3 separate regions of the Homo sapiens genome follow, and regions 2 and 3 are each reported to be linked to region 1. Evidence: microRNA targets listed by miRTarBase, many of them from high-throughput screens and not tested one by one. Region 1 holds a microRNA gene; each other region holds the end of a gene's coding sequence.
What was found. The annotated mature microRNA hsa-miR-504-5p reads AGACCCUGGUCUGCACUCUAUC and lies in region 1 at 4,709-4,730, opposite strand. An mRNA with a match to its seed (bases 2 to 7 or 8) in the 3' UTR can be bound and repressed. Matches are read on the target gene's strand: a 7mer-m8 pairs with bases 2 to 8, a 7mer-A1 pairs with bases 2 to 7 and ends in A, and an 8mer does both.

Region 1 (7,200 bases):
TGGAAAGAAAGAAAAAATTCCACATTAGTGAAGTTGTGGAATCACAGGCCTCTACTCACAGTTAAGTTATCCAAGTTAAAAAAAAAATTACCTCAAATGTATTTCTCTTGGAGTTTTGTATTAATATTACGCATCACAGTATTCAGGGCAGAAATTTATCTTCCTATTTTATTTTGCTTAGGTGAATATTGAAATGATTGTGTATTTTCTGAGCCTCCTCAGATAGGGAGGAGGCAGTCAGAAGTGTGGTGAGGCTAAGCCAGCCTGGAATCAAACATTTTCTACAGACAGAAATCACTAATCAATCTTGTGTTAAATTGCTCAAGAAAATCCATAAAGCAGTTAACATCACCTTGATTATTTATATACACAGATAGTTGAAAGTTGACTAACAAGATTTGGGAACAAAATATACAAAGCAGCTGATGCCCATCATGAAAAGGTGCACATAAAATCCACACCATAATCCAGGATGACAATTTCTAAACTCATACCTTGTGTTCAGCCATCTATTAAAACCTTGAGAATGATAATATTTGTTTTATATTTTAATTCTGTATCTAGTCCCAAATGAATCATCATTGACTACTCTCCCTCACCCAACATTATGTAAACATATAATAAATGGAGTTGTGGTTGTGGATAATCTTAGGAACAGACATTCAAATAAACAGGCATATAATTCTTATTTAAAAGTAAACTGGCCATCTATGCAAAATCCAAATACAATTTGTATCAGAAAAATTATAGGGTTGGGGTGTGTTTATATGATAAGAGAGAGAGGAGGGGGACCATTTTAGTCTATGTTTTCAAGGCTTTACACTTCACTCAACATAACTGCAGCTGAAACTTTAGTTTTTCTAAAGTCATGGTGGGGAATTCCTTACAGAAAGTCTCACAGCATCTTCTTTTGTGATTCACCTGTATCTCTGGTATTCTTTGTCATCTGATCATCTACTAGTCTAAATTAGGTTTCATTCAGCACACCTCCAAGGCTGTTCTGACAAACAGGCAGCTGCCACTACAGCATCTTCTTAAATGGCTCCATAAATGAAGTAAAGAGTATGGCTGTTCCAGTGGCCTGTTTTGGCTCAATGGTACAATCTTCCAGCTGGTGAATTCCCCAGTAAGTAAGCACTACAAGAACAATTTGTTTGATTGATGCAATGAAGCCTGAAAATTGCTATGGCACAAAGCTGCCTCCAGATTGGGAGGAAACTTTGGCTAGCACAGTCCCTTGAAGACATAAATGTTAAAGGCCATCTAACATTTTGTTTTGGCTAGGGCCCTCGAAAAGCTCAAAGTTACTTCAAATTATTAGTCAGGTCGGAAATGTTATATTCAATACATGTACGAGTCTTTAAAAGACCAATCATTCCTTTGTTTCAGTGAAATTATTTAAGTGATTTTAGGAGATAAAATTCAGAAAAGCGATCAGCTGAAAAAGGGAAGTTGTTACAAGAAAGATCATTTGCTCATTGATCTTCAAACACTAGTTTGCATGTGTGAGAGAGAGAGAGAGAGAGAGAAAAGGGAAATGAATTAATTTAAAAAATTAACTTAACAAAAAAATATTCCACAGATGGCTAGTTATAGAACACTTGGCAGTTAGAAAATGCCAAGAGGGTTTCCCACATAAGGCTGAGAAAAAAATGAGTTTATTTCTTTTTAAAAGAAGCAGTGGCAGAAGGACCAAGAAACAGAAGAAAAAAGATAGAGATGGAAAATCTGAACCTCCCTCTACCAATAGCCAACAATGGTCTGATTACAAGAATTTAGGAAACATACTACTTATTTTGGCTCAAAGAAGTCCAAAGGAAGTTCCCTTCTCATCCTTTTCCACCTTCCTCACCACTGCTCCATTCAATTTTATACCTATGTTGTTTTTAAACTCAGTATGCACTGACCTTAATACTCAAGGGTATGCTCGGTCCAATGAGCTCTCTGGAAGTGAGGGAACACAACCAAGATCTTTGTTTGTAGGAAAGGGGTTCTCAGTGACCTAGAGTTTGCTCCTTTAGTCCCTTCATAGTCTTCTACCCTGGAGAGTAGATTATATCCCAGTTTCCAGAGATCACCCCAAAACAAGATCCAGGTCTCACTTAAACCTAAGATTCCTCCACTCAAAACTAATTTGAAGGAACAAAGTGAGGCTGTCTGCTTCTCCTTGAACCTGTGAGGCCTTAGAATCTGTGTCAATTCTTCTTCAAGTATCATAGGGATTCCACGGCTACCTGGGGTTCAGCTCGAGCCAAGGCTCTAATGATCTCAATTTATTATTGATTTGACTGTGTAATTAAGTTACTTTAATCCTTGTGCACTGAACAACCAGTGTCCTTACTGCAAGTGTTCCTGACTGGATAGAGGAGATAGTAGGGGAGCTGTTTCCTGTGCCTTTTAAGCAGACACAGGCAAAATAATTTTGGAAGATTTTGTAAACACTTAGAATATGTGTATCTGCAATATATCTTTCTGGCTGGGCCTTTGGAAATATATCAAAAGCGTCTAGCGTACTTTAGTTAATGCCTAAGCATTAACTCTGAACACAGGGATAATATTAAAAGCATTTCATTCGTATTTATGAAAAACATGTAGATTTTTTGCAGTAGATTATATTTCAGTATTCTGTAAGTGCTTGTCAGATGAAGGCAGTTTAACTGAGATGTAGTGGCACTTAATTTTTGAAAAGAAAAGAGAAAGCCCCTACCCTCATGTAAAACTAGTGACAAAAGTGTGTGCCTGACCACTTTTTAAAAGAGCACAAGGATAAGACAGGGCAGCAAAAGGTGCTATTTTAAAGTAAAAAAGAATAGCAATCTGCTATAAAGAGAAAAAAAAGAAAGCAGGGAGCAATAATGCCATCAACTAAATTAGGGCTGACACAGGGCTGGGAGGTACATAATCATCTGTTTCTCAGATACTCAGATGAGAAGTGAAACCATTCCCAGTGTTTTCAAAAATTTTAACATGTATGCTATCACTAAGATGTTTTCATAGGGAGTTTTTGTCCTATGATTTAATTCCCTGGCATTTACATTGTATTTCTTCAATTGTCTACATTTTGAAATCAAAATGTTCAAATGCTGAATGATGGTAGTCTAGACTCTCTAAACTGTCCAACAAAAGACATGGATTTTCTTCTTCCTGAGAAAAGTCTGAGTTGCTATATTATCTCATAAGCCTCATCAATAAGGATCCAATATCTGAGAGTTTTTTCTACATATAATACACTGTGTATTTGCATTCCTGAAAAGAAAAAAATGTGTTTTTATTGTTAAAATCTAGCCATATTCAGTTGTCAGCTAATGAGGAAATTCATGAGAAAGCTACATTCTCCTAAGGTATGATCCAAAAAGTACGTATGACAATAATTGAATAAGAGGTGCTAGAAAGAAGCACTTAAAGAAAGTGAAGTTGGGACATGGCAAAGTGTACTGGAAAGAGTATTGGTTAGGAGTCACAAGACTTGCTTTCTAATTCCAAATTCCAATGTTGTCAATTATTTATTAGCTACGTGTCTTTTGGAAAACCACTTCATCTTTCTGGACATAAGTTTCCTTATCTATAAGGACAGAATAATAAGCCCTTCTCTATCTCACAAGGTGTAGCAGGGATCAAATGAGGAAATAAAGATGAAAATACTATAAATTTTAAAGTGTTAGATATAGGTCTATTTCAATTATCATATATGAACAGAATACAGAAACATATACAACTTATAAATAAAAGATCATTATTCCATTTCCTAACACTTTTTTAAGAATTCAAGTGCCTGATCTAGACATAAAGGTTGTACACATTTAGGTGTGAACAGTTCCTTGTTCCCAAAAACAAAAACAAATAAACAGAGAACAAACTAAATAGATTATTACTATTCAACCACTAAAATGTAGATTAAGAATAATATTTTAATATATAGAGGAATAGTCATAATAACGAGTAAACAGCAGGTTTGAAACATGGTATGCATAGTTATTCCAAATGTACATATATATCTTTATGTAATATATATGTATTTTATATATGTACACATATATGTGTATACATATATTATGCTATATCATATATTAGGTTATATATGTATATTATGTATTTATACATATATATAAAATACGTATATATTACATGAAGATATATATGTATATTTGGAATATATGTATACATATATAATATACATATATATTACATAAAAATGTATATTTGGAATATATGTATATATATAGAGAGAGAGAGAGAAAGAAAGACAAAGACAGAGAGAGAGAGATATACACGAATTCCAGCTAGCCACTACAAGGATCTATAACAGAACATTAATATTGGTTTTCTCTTGGTTGGGGGACTTTGTAGATACCTTTTTGTATTTTCCAATTTTTCTGCAAAGAACATATATTACATTGGTAAACAGAAAATAAACATACACAAAATAACTGTTCAGAAAGAAAAGCTCAATTAGAAACTTAACATTCTTACTGAACCTGACTATAAGAGAGTTACAAAGACATTTCAATAACTACTAAAGAGACTTATCAGGATTGAGTTTCTTCATAGAAGAGGATCAGTTGAATTTTCATGAAGCATTGGGGTGGTGGGGTAAGATTCCAGGTGAAATGGCTTTGAAGTTGAGTTCCAGTCAACATTTGCCATACGGTGGTAGTCTGTGCCCTCTGTATGGGAAACCCTGCCCTGCACTCCCTTCAGTAAGAATACAGATAGAGTGCAGACCAGGGTCTCCCAACAGCAGCTGATTCAACATTCCACTCCATATTTTCTGTCTTCTGTTGTGATTCTATGTGGGAAATGGATGGCTCGTTGAGTTACCTTTTCCTTTTGAGTTATTCCACTTCAGTGATGGACACTAACTGATGAGGGTAGACTGTGGCCTTGTGGATCAGTTCGTCCCCTGTAAACAGCTGTACTTTTGGACTTTACATAAATTTTTCTTAGTCTTAAAAAAAATGACAATTTAATATATGATAGGATTTCCATAGTCTTCCAAGAATTATAGGCTTATATATATTGGCCTGAAGGCAGCATGTTATTATATGGACTGTAACGGCAAATAATATGAAGCATTTGTTAACTTAATGAACTTAACACTGTAAAATGCTGTGCATGTATTATCATTCCATTTAATCCTCTTAAGAACCCTATGAGGTCTATACTACTATTACCTCCATTTTATAGATGAGGAAACTAAAGGACAGATGGATTAATAATTCCTTTGCCCCAAATCATAAACCTTATAAGCATTTGAATTGTGTTTCAAATCCATGTAATGTCAGAGCCCTCCCTCTTAACCACTACAGGCATTTTAAAGGCAGATATTATGTATCATTTATTATGATGCTGCAGCCTGCTTAAAATCAGGATAGCAAAAGGTTGTTGCCACAGGGTAAAAAGGGGAAGAAGTGGGGGAGGGTAGTGTGTTCTATTTCAGAGATAGAGACAATGACTCCATTGTTGGTTATTTTGAGTTTAAAGAGCCATTAGTGATAGGTTAATGTGCAGCAGCCATTTGTATATATAAGCCTGGCTCTCAAGATGAAAGGTGTCTGCATATGGATGGTAACTGAAACCACAAGAATACATTTAATAATCTAGAGAACACAAGCAGAATACAAGACAACTACTGAGGCTGGAAACTGGGGGTGGGGAGGACATCAAACATTTCAGAAAAGACGAGGGAAGTGTAAAAATTAAAAGAAAAATAGTGATGGTGTAGAACAGAGAAAAAGCAGTGTTGTGAAAGCCCACAGAAGAGATGGTTTCAATGAAAAAGTTGACCAACCTGGTCAAGTGCTGTAGAAAGGAGAAATAAGGTAAGGACTGAAGGGAGAAATGGATTTTAGTTGGCAGTCACTAGCGACATTAGCAGGAGGAGTTCATGGATGGCAATGTGGGCAGAAGATAGAATGCGGAGGGCTGAATAATTAAGAATTAGATGAGAAAATAAAAGCAAAGGTGAAGCTGAATAATTTAAAAATAGGCGAGAAAATGAAGAAAGCTCTTGCCTATCAAAGGAAAGAGACAGTCTGAAAGAGAAACTTAGGAGGGACTTTTTAGGATGAGAAGTCTTGAAATGATCTGTATGCCAGTGGAAAAAAGGTAGTAGTCCAGGAGGTAGTGAAGGTACAGGACAAAGGATAATTGATGTATCTAGGTCCCCATGGCTTTGGGAAGAGATAAAATAAATGGAAAAAGAAGAGGAACTTTTCTTTTGGGAGATGGTTGTTGAACTGAATGGCTTTTAAGGCCCTTCACAATACTGATGCAATTTCATAAAGGATGGAAAAATCCTACAGTTATTGTAGTGAGTTCTGGAAAACTAGACAGAGGATGTACTCCAGTGGTATCAGGCTGGCAATACATGGCACAAAACAATGTTACAAGGCTCCAGTGTACTTCAGACAACTACCAATAACCCCTGTGCCTGATGCTAAACCCAGACTTTTTTCAACAAATAACTGTCTCTTTTCCTTTCTTGTCTGGCTTCTTTTAAATGCTAAGTTTGAAATGTGATACCTTTGCATGAAAGCGGCATGCAGTCTACATGTCAGTTGATAAGAGTATACTGGAAATATTTCACTTTAATAATGTGGATAGGATCCTTCTGCCTCTCCCCTTCTCCCCTGGCCCCCACACCTTGTTCTTAATATCTCTGGATTCCATCTCTTCCCTAAAATACCTTTAGGATTTCTCCTATGTGCATAACAAATAACAGCATTATTTACATTTTAGCACTTCTTCTAAGACGTTTCCAGGTGCTAGATACAAGCTGTAGAAGAGCTTGCATTTTTTCCTTTAGATCTAAATAGTCTGAATCTCAGTATTGCTCATGGGAAACTGTTTCAAAGGCTGAAGTGTCAGAAGCAGAAAGGAAAGAAATGAGTGGGTGGGAAGTTCTACATGCAAACCTGTCACACTCTTCTTTCATTTTCAGACCTGAATATGCATGGATGCAGAAATTATAGCTTATTCCAAAGTTTTTATTGTCAGCATCAAATTTAACAAAAAAACGTCAAGAATATCAGATTGGTATATTTAGGTGAAAATGTTCAACAGACTTCATCTTTAACACAAATAGTCCTATCCGTTAATAAGCCCTTTAATTCCCTTTGAATACACTTCAAGAGAGGGCTCCAGGCAAAGTACACAGTAAAATCTCATTTATTCCAATTTCGCTACTTTGAAATTTACAAT
Region 2 (7,200 bases), not on the chromosome of region 1:
AGAAGCAGGAGCAGGTGCACCCTAGAGGGGATGCATTTTGGGAGGTATTGGTGACAGAAGCCTAACTCAAACTGAATATTTGAATAAAATGGAGTAAAAGTCCAGGGCTGTGTTGCATTCAGGCATGGCTAGATCTAGGTACCCAAATTATGTCATTAGGGGTCTGGGTCTCCCCATCCTGCTGCCTTTCTCCCCACCCCACCCTATTTCTTGCTGGCTTCACCTGCTTTCTCCTTGTGGGAGTAGAAATGGCCCTAGCAGCTCCCAAGTTCTATCCCACCAGCTTAGCCTCCCCCAGCAGAAGCTTTTAAACAGTAACAACAAAAATCCCAAGGAAGGGTGTCATTGGTCCATTCTGGACTGCATGCCCACCCTATGAGCCAGTTTCCCTTTGCTGATTGGCCAGGCTTGGGTCACGTGCTTGGTCTTAGAACTAGATATGGGCTCAACCCAACCAGACCAATGTAAGAGTGAGAGGAGCAGTCTTTCTCCAGGAGAAGATAGCTGACCCTGAGGCCCTGAGCAAGTCTTTTACCCAGTACCTCAGTTTCCTCCTGAATAAAGAAGAGGATGGCTTCTATTCTGGGAGTTTGATTCTAGCTTCCCCAGGTAGCCCAAGGTGGAAGGATCAGGATAAGGGTGGGTCTCTGGCTGGATGGCATTTGTATCCTGCATCTAAGCGCCCCTTTCCCTAACCCTGGCCTTCTGCCTTCTGTTCCCTCATGAACACCCTTGGTCACCTGCTCACCACCCTTCCACTCCCTACAGGTCGGTGGATTTCCTCCTGGACTCCAGCCTGCGCAAGCTCTACCCAACAGTGGGGAAGCCCAGCTCCTCCTGATCATACTCTGGTACCTGGCCTGTGCATCGGCCTCCTGCTTCATGTCAACCTCCTACTCCTGCCAGGGAATGTGGACACCTGGCTCCCTGGTGTCCAAAGACCCTGGCACCTGGGTGGGTTTGAGCTGGACAGAAGCTTAGAGACAAAGGCTTCAAGAAGCAGTGGCTGCAGGGAGTCACAGAAGGGCAGGACCTGAACGCTGTCTGCTTCCCTGGAATCCAAGATGCTGAGTGGAAGTGGACCCTGGGTGGGCCCGGCCCTGTCTTTTTCAGGAAAATTACATCCTCCCATGGAGGATGAGAGACTGAGGCTCAGGGAGGGCAAGGAATAGGCCCAAGATCACTTGGCAAGCTGGGCACCCAGGACCCCCAGGTGCTTGACAGAGTCACCCCATGGTGGTATGGCTGAACAAGGAGCGGCAGACAACTCAGGGAGAAACTCAGGAGTGCAGTACCAGGGACACCTCAGGACAGATTCTCTGGCCAGGCCCTTCCCTGACCCAATAAATCCTGAAGAGGTTGTTATGTCTTCATTTCTGTTTGGGAGGAGCAGGGATGTGGTGGTGGGGAGGAGGGATGGGTAGCAGTCTCCCCGCCCATTAGTGCTTCCCTGCAGGTGCCTGGCATCCCACGTTGGTGCTGCCAGCCTCCTTTGGGGTAGGCATTACCCTTTACTTACTTACTTTTAATAGAGATGGGGGTCTCCCTATGTTGCCCAGGCTGGCCTTGAATGCCTGGGCTCAAGCAATCCTCCCACCTCAGCATCCCAAACTGCTGGGATTATAGGAATGAGCCACTGCACTCAGCCTGGCATTGCCCTCTTTTTCTAGCCTCCTAAAGCACCAACCCCTCTGGGAGGGGAGCCTGTTGGGCAGATACCACCTGAGCCTGAAGGTGGCCAAGATGGTGGTGTCAGCCCCATATGAGGGTCACATGAGACCTCCTCATGAGGGGACTCGGCAGCCTGGAGAAGGAAGTGACCAGGGGGCTTCTTACACTCAGAATCAGGGAATGGCCTGTTTTCCTTGTGGCTTCCCCTGAGCTGCTGGGCTCGAGAGTGCTAGAGGGGGCCATTCCTCTGATCCTGGGCCATCCCCCTCAACAGCTCAGAGAGGTAGAGAGGTGGGAGCACAGGGCTGAAGCAGACCTGGGCCCCTCTCAGCCCTGCCCCAAGCACCAAATCAGCTCCCACCAAGACCCTGGCCCCATCCCTTGCAGCCCAGGTGCAGTCAGGTAGGCTGACCCTGTCCTGGTGGGACTCACCTGCACCTGGGCTGGGACTTAAAGGGGCTGCAGGGCTGGGTAGGGGTGCTGCCAGCAAGACAGGATGGGGGCTCCGGGGTGGTGGCCCCTGCTGCTCTGGGGGTATCCATGGCTACAGGATGAGTCTGATGTGGGCTGAGCCTTTCTCTGCTACTCTTATTGTCCCACACTGGCAAGGTCCCCTTCCCAAGCCCCTATGGCCTCTGCCCAGTCACCTGTCACTCCCTCCCAGCTCCCTTAAAGGCTTTAAGCCCCGCCTTGTTCTCTAGCCCCCGACCCCACCCCCCATTCCCTGTCTGAGCTGGCACTCACATCCTTCTCCAGCCCAGCATTTTCCCAGCTCATCTTCTCCCCCGGCAGTCACAGCCCCATGCGGGGTACATTCACACCTGCATCCCTGTGACATCTCCTGGCATCTACCACCAATTCCTTGCTCACTCACTCTCCACTTTCCACTCTGCAGGCTCTCCCTCAAGCTGGGATCTGTGCAGGCCACATATAGGCTTTGTGCTCATGGGCCTAAGCGCCCAGCCTTGTCCTTCTCCCCATCACCTGCCCTCCTGTGCCTCTATGCCTTTCCTCACAACACACTGTTCCTCAGCTGCAAATCCTTTTCCTCTTGGCCAGCTATGAGCACCCTTCAGAACCAGCTCCAGTGCCCCTTCTGTTGTTGCCCCTTACTATGCCTTACTGTGGGCCACCTCTGCCCTTGACTGCCCCGTTGGTGGTAACTTGTGAGGAAATACCGGGGTGCAAGTTTGCAGATGCCTGGCACATAGTAGGTGCTCACAGAAGGGGCTTTGAGGCACTCCCAGGCCAGGCTGATAGGGATGAGGTCGGTGGACATCCTGTCTGTAGGGGGAAACACCACCATCTCCACAACCCCCCAACATTTTACCCTGCTCCATTTATTATTATTATTATCATTTTGAGACTGAGTCTCGCTCTGTCACCCAGGCTGGAGTGCAGTGGCACAAACTTGTCTTACTGCAACCTCTGCCTCCCGGGTTCAAGCAGTTCTCCTGCCTCAGTGTCCCAAGTAGCTGGGACTAGAGGTGCATGCCACCATGTCCAGCTAATTTTTGTATTTTTAGTAGAGACGGGGTTTCACCATGTTGGCCAGGCTGGTCTTAAATTCCTGACCTCAACTGATCTGCCCACCTTAGCCTCCCAAAATGCGGGGATTGCAAGCGTGAGTCACTGTGCCCAGCTCCCTGCTCCATTCTGGAGATGCAGGGAATTAATTGAAGGTGGGGGATGCTGGGGGAGGTTTTTGGGCACCCTCTGCTGGCCATGTTCTCGCTGAGTCTGGTTCTCCGCCTGAGCTAGCCTGGGCTGGATTGCCAGGAGACAGCCTCCTGCAGGACTGTAATCAGACAGATGTCCTCCTGGCAGTGAGGAAGGAGCCCCAGGTGGATGCTTGCCACCTGTGCCTTGGCACCTGCCTGCCCTCCCCAGTCCCTGCCATACCTGGCTATGAGGTCTTCACTGCCCCATTCAAAGCTTATGGCTTCATCCAACTGGTGAGGGGGCTGTTGGAGGCTCACGAGGACAAGGCTGCCAAGAGCCAGGGAGTACCCGGGAGATTCGGGGGAGAAGAGCTGGGGTGTCTGGGCTGGAAAGAAGGGTAGAATCAGATCATACTGATTTGCAAGTCACAGCCTCTCCGAGTGTGAGTTTTTCTCTCAAAGATGCAGAGCCCTGTATCTCTGCAGAATTCAGTAGCTAAGGATTTGATGCAGATTTGCCATTTAGCATCTGTGTGTTTGTACGTGCCCTTTACGTGCATTTGTTTCTTGCATCCTCAACAGCCCCGTGAGGAGATAAAACCATCATTCCCATATTCCACATGAAGACACTGAGGCTCACAGAAGGGAAGACCCCACTGTCTACCACCAGATGCAACTCAGCACATCATTCTTCAAAGCAGAATTGGCTTTTTTTTTCCTTGAGACAGGGTCTCGCTCTGTTGCCCAGGCTGGAGTGCAGCGGTGCAATTATGGCTTACTGTAGTCTTTACCTCTCAGGCTCAAGTGATTCTCACATCTCAGCCTCCCAAGTAGCTGGGACCACAGGCGTGTGCCTGGATAATTTTTTGATTTTTTTTTTTTTTTTTTTTTTTTTGCAGAGACTAGATCTCGCTATGTTGCCTAGGCTGGTCTCCAGCTCCTGGGCTCAAGCGATCCTCCCACCTCGGCCTTCCAAAGTGCTGGGATTACAGGTGTGAGCCACCGAGCCCTGCCAGAATAGGCATTTAAGCAAGACAGGGACCTCGAATGAGGCCTAGCAGGAAATTGAGGCCCAGACAGGGCAAGTGACTTCAAGACCACCCAGTGAGGTGGGGGCCCAAGCTGGGAGTAGACCTTTCCTGCCTTTTCCCACCATCCTAAGGAGCAAGTATCCTCGCAGATCTCAGGAAAGATAGTGGAATTATTTGCTGACCTGGTCTATGCACCACCACCCAGTTCAGAGCAGCCCTGCAGTGCTGCCTCCCGCCATTGGGTCAGCAGTGTGGTCAAGGCGTGAGCAATGCCTAGCACCCCTAAGCCTGTCTAGGGCCCTGCCACCTGGAGGTCTGCAGGAAGAGGGAATGGTAGGTTGGATGGGGGCTGCCCCTCCAGAAAGGGGCCACCAGGCGCTGACCTCCTGGCCCCCACTTGGTGTGAGCCTGGGGCAGGGCTGGAAATGCTCACCTGGGGGTTGGAATTTGGAATTCCTGGCCTTTTCCCTCCTGTTCTTCCTCCTCATGGGCTGCCCTGGGGGACTTGGCATGGGCCTTTAGTGTTTGTTTTCTGGGCCCCCTCACATGCCAGAGTTGCAATGTTCCCCGCCCCCCCCTTATTTCCCTGCCAGCCCAGGAGCTCCCATCTCACCTCCCACCTCCTTGGTCACTGACTCTCTGGCTGCGTTTGGAAATCTGGACTTCAGCATGAGACTTTGGCCTGGTTCTTTGCCTCCCACAGGTGGGGGACATTGGCTGGGCTGAAGTAATGTCCCAAGAGGAAGGTCTTCTAGCTCAGGGACTCCTGTGCCTCCAGTTCTGGGCCAGGTTACCCCTGGAGAAATAAGGAAGTGAGGGAGGACCAGTAACAGAGTGTGAGGGCACTGGGCTTCTGGCCACCTGGCCCTAGCTTTTCCTGCTTCTCCTCTTGCTGTGTGGCCTCAGGCAAACCCTTCAGCATCTCTGGGTCTCGTGTCTTCCCCATCTTGGTTTCATTCCACCTCAGGGTGGGGCCATACTGGAGGATCCAGACCCCACCAACACCAGCACCATTTTCCTGGGCTCTGAGCTCCACATGGAGTTTGCTGTGGTTGGCAGCTCCCATTAGCCTTTACAGGTATATGTGGACGAGTGTGTGATCAGCCCCAGCCAGGATATGGAAGTGGCCCCTGCACACTACAGCCTTGTCAGGAATCATGGGTACTGAACCTGGAGGAGGAGGATAGGGTAGGATGGGTACAATTCAGTGGGTGATATCTCTGGGGAGGCTGGGACAGGGGCTGAGAGCCTTCCAGGGCTGGAAGGCACGGATGCCCAGATAGTGCTCCCTGGGCGTTCTTGAGTAGTCCTTTCTAGGCCAGGGGAGCAAGAATGCTTTACTGGCCCTTTCACCTCTGGAGCCTCTGTTTGCCCTTCTGTGAAATGGGGATAGTGCCAGAATCTTCAAAGCCTGCTGTGTAGACTGAATGGGGTGACGCTTAGCTCAGTGCTTGGCATGCAGAATTCTCAACAAATGATGGTGTATGGTGGTGTTGGGGCTAGGACCAGATCCCAGTTCAGGGGTCTGACCCTGATGACCTTCCAACCTGTGCCTTCCAGGTGCCTGGTGAACGGCAAGAACTTCCACTCCCACTTCGTGCCCCAAGAGGTCCCCAAGAGACTGGAGCTCTCCTTCCAGGCCTTCAGCTTTACTGGTACTCCTGCTGATGTGAGTGGAAACAGATAACCCCCTCCCCACTCTGCCACCCCGTAGGAACAGAGACCCAAGCTGAGGAATCTTTGGAAGTTACGGGGTGCACCACAAGCTGTTGCTCTGGAATCTAAAGGTCCCATCTGATGCTACCAAGAAGGCCTGTTCCTTCCACAGGGGCACTCATGGTGAGTCATGTTCACCAAAGGTGTACTGCATGCCTTACCCTGTAACTGGCATTTGAGGTACATGACCTCACTTAATTGTGTGGGAGGTGAGGAAACTGAGGCTCAAAATAGCTCAGATTGAATTTCTGCAATAGTTCCCCATGCTTGGCTGGACCACAAGCCCAACTGCTTTGGCCTAGAGTGGGCAGTGTGAGGTATACTGGGAATGGAGGCTTTGGACTGTGACCTAGACCCAGGTTCAAATCCCAGCTCCAGCTCTTGCTGGCTGTGACATCATGGGCAAGTCACTGACCTTTTGTTAGCCTCTGTTTCTTTGCTTGTTAAATGCAGGTCTGGTCCATGCCACCCCTAGCTCCCATCTCTGGTGCACTGACCACCTCCATCCCTCACCTCTAGGTAAGAACTTCTGGATGCCTCCCTGGGAGTATGAGTGACAGTTGTGAGATTACCTGCCTGGCCCCCTGATTACCCTATCAAAGGTCCTTGGCAGGTAGGAGGCCCCTGTTTTGGGTGTGGAGGGTGGAGGTAGGCTCTGAGGCAAGGGAGGCAGCTGGCCCGGGGAATCAGTCACAGCCTTGCATGAACAGGCTTATAGAAGACATCATCTTGCTACTAAAGGCCTCTGAGGAAACTGACACTGGCCTGGACCACAAAGACCCACTCAAGGTGCCCATTGATCAGAACCAAGGAGGGTCCTGGCTTCTGGATCCTGTCTGGAGAGGCTTCTACTGTGTGGGACCTTGGGCAAATCCTTTCCCTTTCTGGGCCTTGGTTTCCCCAAGTGCAAAATGAGAGCATTAGATTGGCCTGCCACTTTTGAGCCTCTCATGTAATCTTTATTAAACAGATATCTGGAGACCCCTTCACCTCCACCCACATAACCCTTGATATATGCCCTTCTGAGAGTTTCATAGAGGAGAGAGAAGGCTTGTAGTCACTCACACCATAGTATAAACAACATGTTATCTTTTCTGTCCTTGGAAAAAAAATAGCTTCAT
Region 3 (7,200 bases), not on the chromosome of region 1:
GCTGGGACTGCAGGCATACACCATCACACCCAGCCAAGAGTTCATTCGTGACTCCTCTCTTACATAATACATTCAATCTTTAAGCAAATACTGTTGGCTCTACCTTCAAAATATATCCAGAATCTACTTCCCACCACTCCCATTACCACCCTAGTCCAAGCCCTTGGGCTCACCTAGAATATTGCCATAATCTAATTTTCACAGTTGGCTTCCCAAGTTTTTTTTTTTTAATTAGTGTGATATGATCTAATATTGCAGCTTAAGCAATATTAGATCATGTCACACTAATTAAAAAAATCTGCAAGTTCTTCTCATTCTCCTCAGAATAAAACTCAAAGTTCATATCATGGCTTTAATGATCTTAATTCCTGCTATCTCTTTGAACTCATAACCCTCTGCTGACCCTAGCTTATTTTCATTACATCTCTTAACCCTGTTTTAATATTTAGCACCATCTGACATATATATGAGATATATATGTAAATATATATATATATTTACGCATGGTGGCTCATACCTGTAATCCCAGCACTTTGGGGAGACTGAGGCGGATGGATCACGAGGTCAGGAGATCAAGACCATCCTGGCCAACATGGTGAAACCCTATCTCTACTAAAAGCCGAGATGGTGTATATATACATAATATATACATTATATATATATTATATATGTATTATATAACATATATATAATACATATATAATAGATGTTATATATAACACGTTATTATATATATTATATATATAACGTGTGTGTGTGTATGTGTGTGTATGTATATATATATGAAGTGTTTATTGTGTCTCCCCTCCACTAGAGTCTAAGCTTTATTAAAGCAGGGTCTGATTTTGTTTGCTGTTGTACTCCCAGTGCCTAAGACTGCCTGGCACATAGCAGGTGCTCAATAAATACTTGCAGTTGATCAGACAATTAAAAAAACAAAAGCTAGCAAAAGCTCTGTATAAGGATATAATAGAGAGAAAAATAAATGGCAGATGAAAAACACTCTCCAGAAAAATACTGCTTCAAATATTTGAAAATTATGATTAAATATTTTACAATGACTTTAATATCTTAATTAAAGATTCATCTCTACAAGAACATACATCAGAAATAGAAGATAAGGCCAGGCACAGTGGTTCATGCCTGTAATCTCAGCACTTTGGGAGGCCGAGGCAGGCAGATCACTTGAGGCCAGGAGTTTGAGACCAGCCTGGCCAACATGGAGAAACCCCATCTCTACTAGTAATACAAAAATTAGCCGGGTGTGGTGGCATGCGCCTGTAATCCCAGCCACTTGGGAGGCTGAAGCAGGAGAGTCACTTGCACCTGGGAGGCAGAGGTTGCAGTGACCCGAGATGGTGCCACTGCCCTCCAGCCTGAGTGACAAGAGTGAAACTGTGTCTCGAAAAGAAAAAAGGAAGATACAATGAAATGACAAAGAGTGAAATGTGAGCTGGCAGAACTCAGGAAATCAAAAATAACCGCAAAAATGAAAGTGGGAATGATGGGGTATACAGTGTTTGAATCATGATAAGGGAAATAAGGAAGAGGAATCATAAAGAAAAATAACATAGAGATAGGAAATGACACATGCACATAACTGGAGTTCCTAAAGTAGAAAACGTCCGTCCATTTTCTATTTTTATAGATGAAAGCACTGAGAAACTTTGCTCACATGATAAAAAGTCAATAATAGGTTTTAGGAATGTCAATCTTCTGAACTCTTAGGCCAAAAATCATAGTGATCTTGCATCAAAATTTATTTTTAATAAATTAGCTGACAATTCACTTGTCTGCTAGTTTCATTGAGGGCATCTGACAGATGACAGAAACCATCTGACTTGCAAAGGGAGTCATTCAGGCCTCAACATAAACATGAATGTTTCAAATTGTCCCTTTGTTTGGACCCATGAAATATTTTATTCCCTGGGACAATTAAACACAGTAGGTCTGGCATGGCTGAGAGGTATTGCCTTTCCTCTAGTGGGAGAAAGGCTGTGAAATAAGAGGTAGTTGTCTTAAGGCAGATCAATTTAGGAACAAATACATATGGATGTACAGGATTGGGAAATTATCTACCGAACCCCTTCATGTACTAAGCACGTACATCCTACTGGTTAACAATGCTAAGTACTGCTAACAGGTCAAGGGAAGAATTTACAAGTACTTATGTTTTAGGAAAATGTCAATAATTGATTTGATTAAAGTTTTCAGTGCTCTTGTGTCTAGGGTGGGTAGGAGCCACACTGGAGTGGATTGAGGAGGGAGGGGATGGAAGTAAGAAATAGAGGCAGTAATAGAAAAGTTACTAAAATTAGATATAGATGAGAGAATTACACCAAACATAGGTGGTACCTAGGAGCAACTTGCTTAAAAAGATATGAAATACTTGAACAAATGCCAAAAGAAAAGGGTCACAGATTAAGGGGGAGGTTGAAGACTCAAGGGAAGATAATAAGCACTACATTCACAAGGTTTAAAAGATTCAACAGTAGGCTGGGTGTGGTGGTTCACAACTGTAATCCCAACATTTTGGGAGGCTGAGGCAGGAGGATTGCTTGAGACCAGGAGTTCAAGACCAGCCTGGGCAACATAGCCAGTCTCTACAAATTAATTAAAAAATTAGCCAGGTGTGGTGGCACACACCTGTGGTCCCAGCTACTCAGGAGGCTGAGGTGGGAGGGGCTTGAGCCCGTTGAAGTTAAAGCTGCAGTGAGCCATGACCATGATCATGCTGCTGAACTCCAGCTTGGGTGACAGAGCAGGACCCCATCTCGGGGCGGCAGAGGGGGTGGTGGGAACCAGGAGCCAGCACTTACTGATCACTTATCTATGCACTAAGCTTTTTGTTCATTTTACCTAAGTCTCACAATAACTAACTATGCAAAGGGGGTTACTGTTACTATCCTCATTTTACTTACCCAGAAAGGAGACCCAGAGAGATCAACTTATGCTCAAGGTCACCGAGTTTAGCCCTGTGGTAGAGTTGGGATGTCACAACCTAGAGCACAGAATCTTGTCCATGGCTGTGGATTTAGTAAGTGAAGTTCAGGGAATTTGTGCCTGAAGGTCTCTATTTTTATGTAAGATAGAAGGCAAGGACATGTTAAGAGTGAAGGAAAAAAAGAGGGTAACAAGTTTCAGAGTATAAGTTTTACATAGTAAGAATGGAGAACCGACTAGAGAAAATAAGGGTAATGGGCAGTGCTGAGGTCAGTTAAAACCAATTTTTACTAATACGGATTTATACATTTGGTGATCTTTCTCCAGAAATAACTGGTGAGGGTAGGAGGGCTTGGATACATCTAGGGCTGGGAATTTTCCAGGAAGTCGTTTGGGTTAACAATCATGATACTGAATTGATAGATCAGGAAGCCTAGATAGGACTTACAGAGGTGGAAACAGACTACGCCCTAACACAGAGCAGGTATAAAGGAGGAGGAGTTGGTTAGAAGTGAATACTTTTATTGAGTGATTTTAGAAGTTGTTTTCGGATATTCCAAGTATTTAGGATGTGGCTGTGGTGGAAACAAGTAATGGAACCAAAGCCCTGTGTGTAAGTAGTCACTGAAGCTAACCAGGTAGCTGAAATTTATTTCCCCCAAATTTACTGAAAGAATGTGACCTTTGTGCTCTCAAACTGTGGTTCAGGCACTCCAGAATTTTTTTCTGTACCTTCAATTCTCTCAGATTTAAAAAATTATACTAGAGAAGAGGACTTTTGCCTATGAATACAAACAACATTGCAATCTGCATCTGCAAACATTCTTTTCAATAGACGGTTAGGTCATGGATACAAGTAAACACTTGGATATAAGGCAAACATTTAAAAGTGCATTTCAGGTATTAAGTCATGAATGATATGGAAAAGTTGCCACTAAACTTTCCACTGAATAGTGTTTCACAGCACAAAAATAATCTATTTTCCTGATACTTTTTTAGTATGGATACCAAGACAGCATGACATCAGTTGTCTAATTTTTTTCCAATTTGATTTAAAAAACCCACATGTTCAGGCTTAAAAGATAGCATTATGTTTAATGGGTGCTAGGAAACCAGGCCACATGGACCAACAGACCTAAATTTACTCTAACCCTGAATTTTGTTAGCACCCAATAAATGAATTAATTGAAATCTGGATTTCTCTATACGGAGATGAAGAAAGTCTTTTAGTGTAGTTATTTTAAAACAAGTTGCTCCTATTTCCTTATCAGAAACAAGACCATATCAACAACCCAACATTTAAATAATGAACTGAAAATACTTTTAAAAACCATAAAACTCATCTCTATCCCATTCTTAAGTAAAAATCAGTCTTCACTTTCTACTTAGTTATAAGCAATCCCACAGACATTTGAAAATCAGTGGGCAAACTAAAATTGTTGAATAAAGCCAAACTTTTTCAAACCAAGTATTTGTTAAATGTCATATGTATTGTCTACTATAAAGTGATTCAATATTTTACTATAGAGGATAGCATCTATTTTTCAAAAATGTGAGAAATTAAAAAAATAACAAGGCAACAACTTTGGGGTCTGATACATGAAATAAATATACTGCAAGATAGAGTCTATCAACCAGAAATCACCTGTTCTACTTGTTAAATTTCTCTAACACATTCTAAATTTTTTTTTTTTTTTTTTTTGAGATGGAGTTTTGCTCTTGTTGCCCAGGCTGGAGTGCAATGGGGTGATCTTGGCTCACTGCAACCTCCGCTTCCTGGGTTCAAGTGATTCTCCTGCCTCAGCCTCCTGAGTAGCTGGGATTACAGGCATGCACCACCACGCCCAGCTAATTTTGTATTTTTAGTAGAGATGGGGTTTCTCCATGTTGGTCAGGCTGGTCTCAAACTCCTGACTTCAGGTGATCCAGCCACCTCGGCCTCCCAAAGTGCTGGGATTATAGGTGTGAGCCACCGCACATGGCAACACGTTCTACATTTCAAAGTGACATAAGAATAATTTTTAAAAATTCCAACACTCCAAGGCTGGGCGTGGTGGCTCACGCCTGTAATCCCAGCACTTTGGGAGGCCAAGGTGGGTGGATCACGAGGTCAGGAGATCGAGACGATCCTGGCTAACACCGTGAAACCCCAACTCTACTAAAAATACAAAAAATTAGCCAGGAGTAGTGGCACATGACTGTAGTCCCAACTACTTGGGAGGCTGAGGCAGGAGAATCGCTTGAACCTGGGAGGCAGAGGTTGCAGTTAGCTGAGATCGCGCCACTGCACTCCAGCCTGGGCGACAGAATGAGACTCCGTCTCAAAAAAAAAAAAAAAAAAAAAAAATCCAACACTCCAAATACATCCTTTAAGTATGTAGATGTATAATAGCTCAGCTCACAAACAGGTGTGACTAAAGCCTTTGAACTTGTTACTTATAAACATTAAGAATTTGGACCCCATTATCCAAAGATCCATTTACTAGCTCATAATGCAATTTGTGTTAATCAGCTATACAAATCAACCACCTAATAGCAGTCAGATGATTCTAATCTCACACCAACAGAAACAGCAATAAAATTAGAAAGTAATACTTTTTAGTAATTAATCAATAAAATAGCACTGGGATAAAATGAAGAGAATTTCTTGTTTCAGCTTCTTATCAGTAAGCCTGTTCCTCATTTGTAGATAATGAGGATAAAGGTATCACAGCCAAATATGGGAAACTGCTCTTTATTTAGACCTTTGGGACAAAATTAACTTTGGTCACATATTACTTAAAAAAAAATCCAGTTTTACATATTTCTAAATAGACAGAACTAAATGATCAGAGAATTTCTTCTGTAAAAATTGGCCAAATTTTATCAAAAATCTAACATACGATACAATCCAAATTATAAAAAGACTACTTGGGATCATAATATTCCAAATGTATGACAGTTATAACTCCATCTTAACAAGTGTGAAAAGTACTTGCTCTCATGTTGCTTTGGTCCAAAAGAGTAGAGCTAACTCAGTAACAGGAAACTAAGTACCCAATCTTTTGCCAAAATTAATTTAGATTGTGACTGGCAGCAGAAATATCCATAATGAACAGCTCTACTATAACAAAGAATAATTAAAGAATACTTTTCGTGAACATATCACAGTATCAAATACATTTTTATAAGAGAAAAATATGAAGGAAATGATAAAATAGCTATCACAAACAAAAAGAAGCATTTCCCCCATAAGGTGAATTAGAGGGTTGATGATGCTAATATGAAAGGAAGTTGAGTACTGTATTTATTTCTTATTTTATACAACTCTTACTCTTTACAAAAATGGTTATAGTCATGCCCATAAAAGTGTAACCCATGGCATTTGAAAGCAAACACTCTTTGTAATTATTTAAAAGGGCCTTTTTAAAAATTATAATACAAAGGTCTGTGCTCTATAAGCAGTCCTCCACTGTGCATTGTAACAATAAGGCTTACTTTTAATACAAAGACTAAGCGTTTGGGAGTTATGAACCACTGGATTTAACAAACATCATTTTATAATTGCTTTTTGCATCTTTTTTGTTTTTGGGATCCTCCACTTCATCAGGGTGCTCAGCAGCTTGGAGTTCTTCAGCAGATTCTTCTTTCTCTGACTCTGAATCGCTTTCAGAATCATCTGGACTTTCAGGATCAGGTGAATCATCATCGTCATCATCATCATCTCCAGCCACATCACCTTCTCCATCATGGTCTTCTACCTAAAACATCAATCAACAGGCTCTTTTAAAAATAAACATTAGCCCATACAAAATCTGAGAAAGACCGTAAGTTCTGTCGGTCTTAGAAACACTCTACTTTGTAGCCATTAGAACAACAGCTTTAAGACTTGAGTAGAATTTTAAGAAAGAGCTCTGTCTGGCTGGGCCCAGTGGCTCATACCTGTGGCTGGGATTCCAGCTACTCAAGAGGCTGAGAGGCAGGGGGATTGCTTGAGGCCCAAAGTTTGAGACCAGCCTGGGCAACATAGTGAGACCCTGTCTCTTAAAAAAAAAAAAAAAAAAAAAAAAAAAAAAAAAAAAAAGGGAGAGAGAGAGAGAGAAACTAAAAAAAAAAAAAGAAAAAAGAAAAAAATTAGCCAGGCATGGTGGTGCATGCCTGTAGTTCTAGCTACTCGGGAGGCTGAGGTGGGAGGATTGCTTGAGCCTAGGAGTTCAAGGCTGTAGCGAGCTATGATCATGCCACTACATTCCAGCCTGTGTGACAGAGCAAGACTCC

Region 2: the mRNA of MTFP1 is a reported target of hsa-miR-504-5p. The part of its 3' UTR that is shown has no 7-base or 8-base seed match.
Region 3: miRTarBase lists C11orf58 as a target of hsa-miR-504-5p. The part of its 3' UTR that is shown has no 7-base or 8-base seed match.

What each region holds. Positions count from the first base shown.
Region 1 is chrX:138,663,052-138,670,251 of GRCh38, forward strand. MIR504 (microRNA 504) reads right to left here and starts at 4,742; the gene lies at 4,660-4,742. The region is part of intron 3 of FGF13 (fibroblast growth factor 13); the gene reads right to left.
Region 2 is chr22:30,427,694-30,434,893 of GRCh38, forward strand. MTFP1 (mitochondrial fission process 1) reads left to right here. Exons shown (of 4, transcript NM_016498.5): 4 at 769-1,361. The coding sequence ends at 841. LOC105372990 (a long non-coding RNA gene) reads left to right here and starts at 4,993. Exons shown (of 4, transcript NR_148046.1): 1 at 4,993-5,551; 2 at 5,924-6,202; 3 at 6,599-6,692.
Region 3 is chr11:16,754,354-16,761,553 of GRCh38, reverse strand. C11orf58 (chromosome 11 open reading frame 58) reads right to left here. Exons shown (of 5, transcript NM_014267.6): 5 at 3,214-6,683. The coding sequence ends at 6,450. Among named protein-coding and RNA genes, the nearest start is that of C11orf58, 19 kb to the right of the region's middle.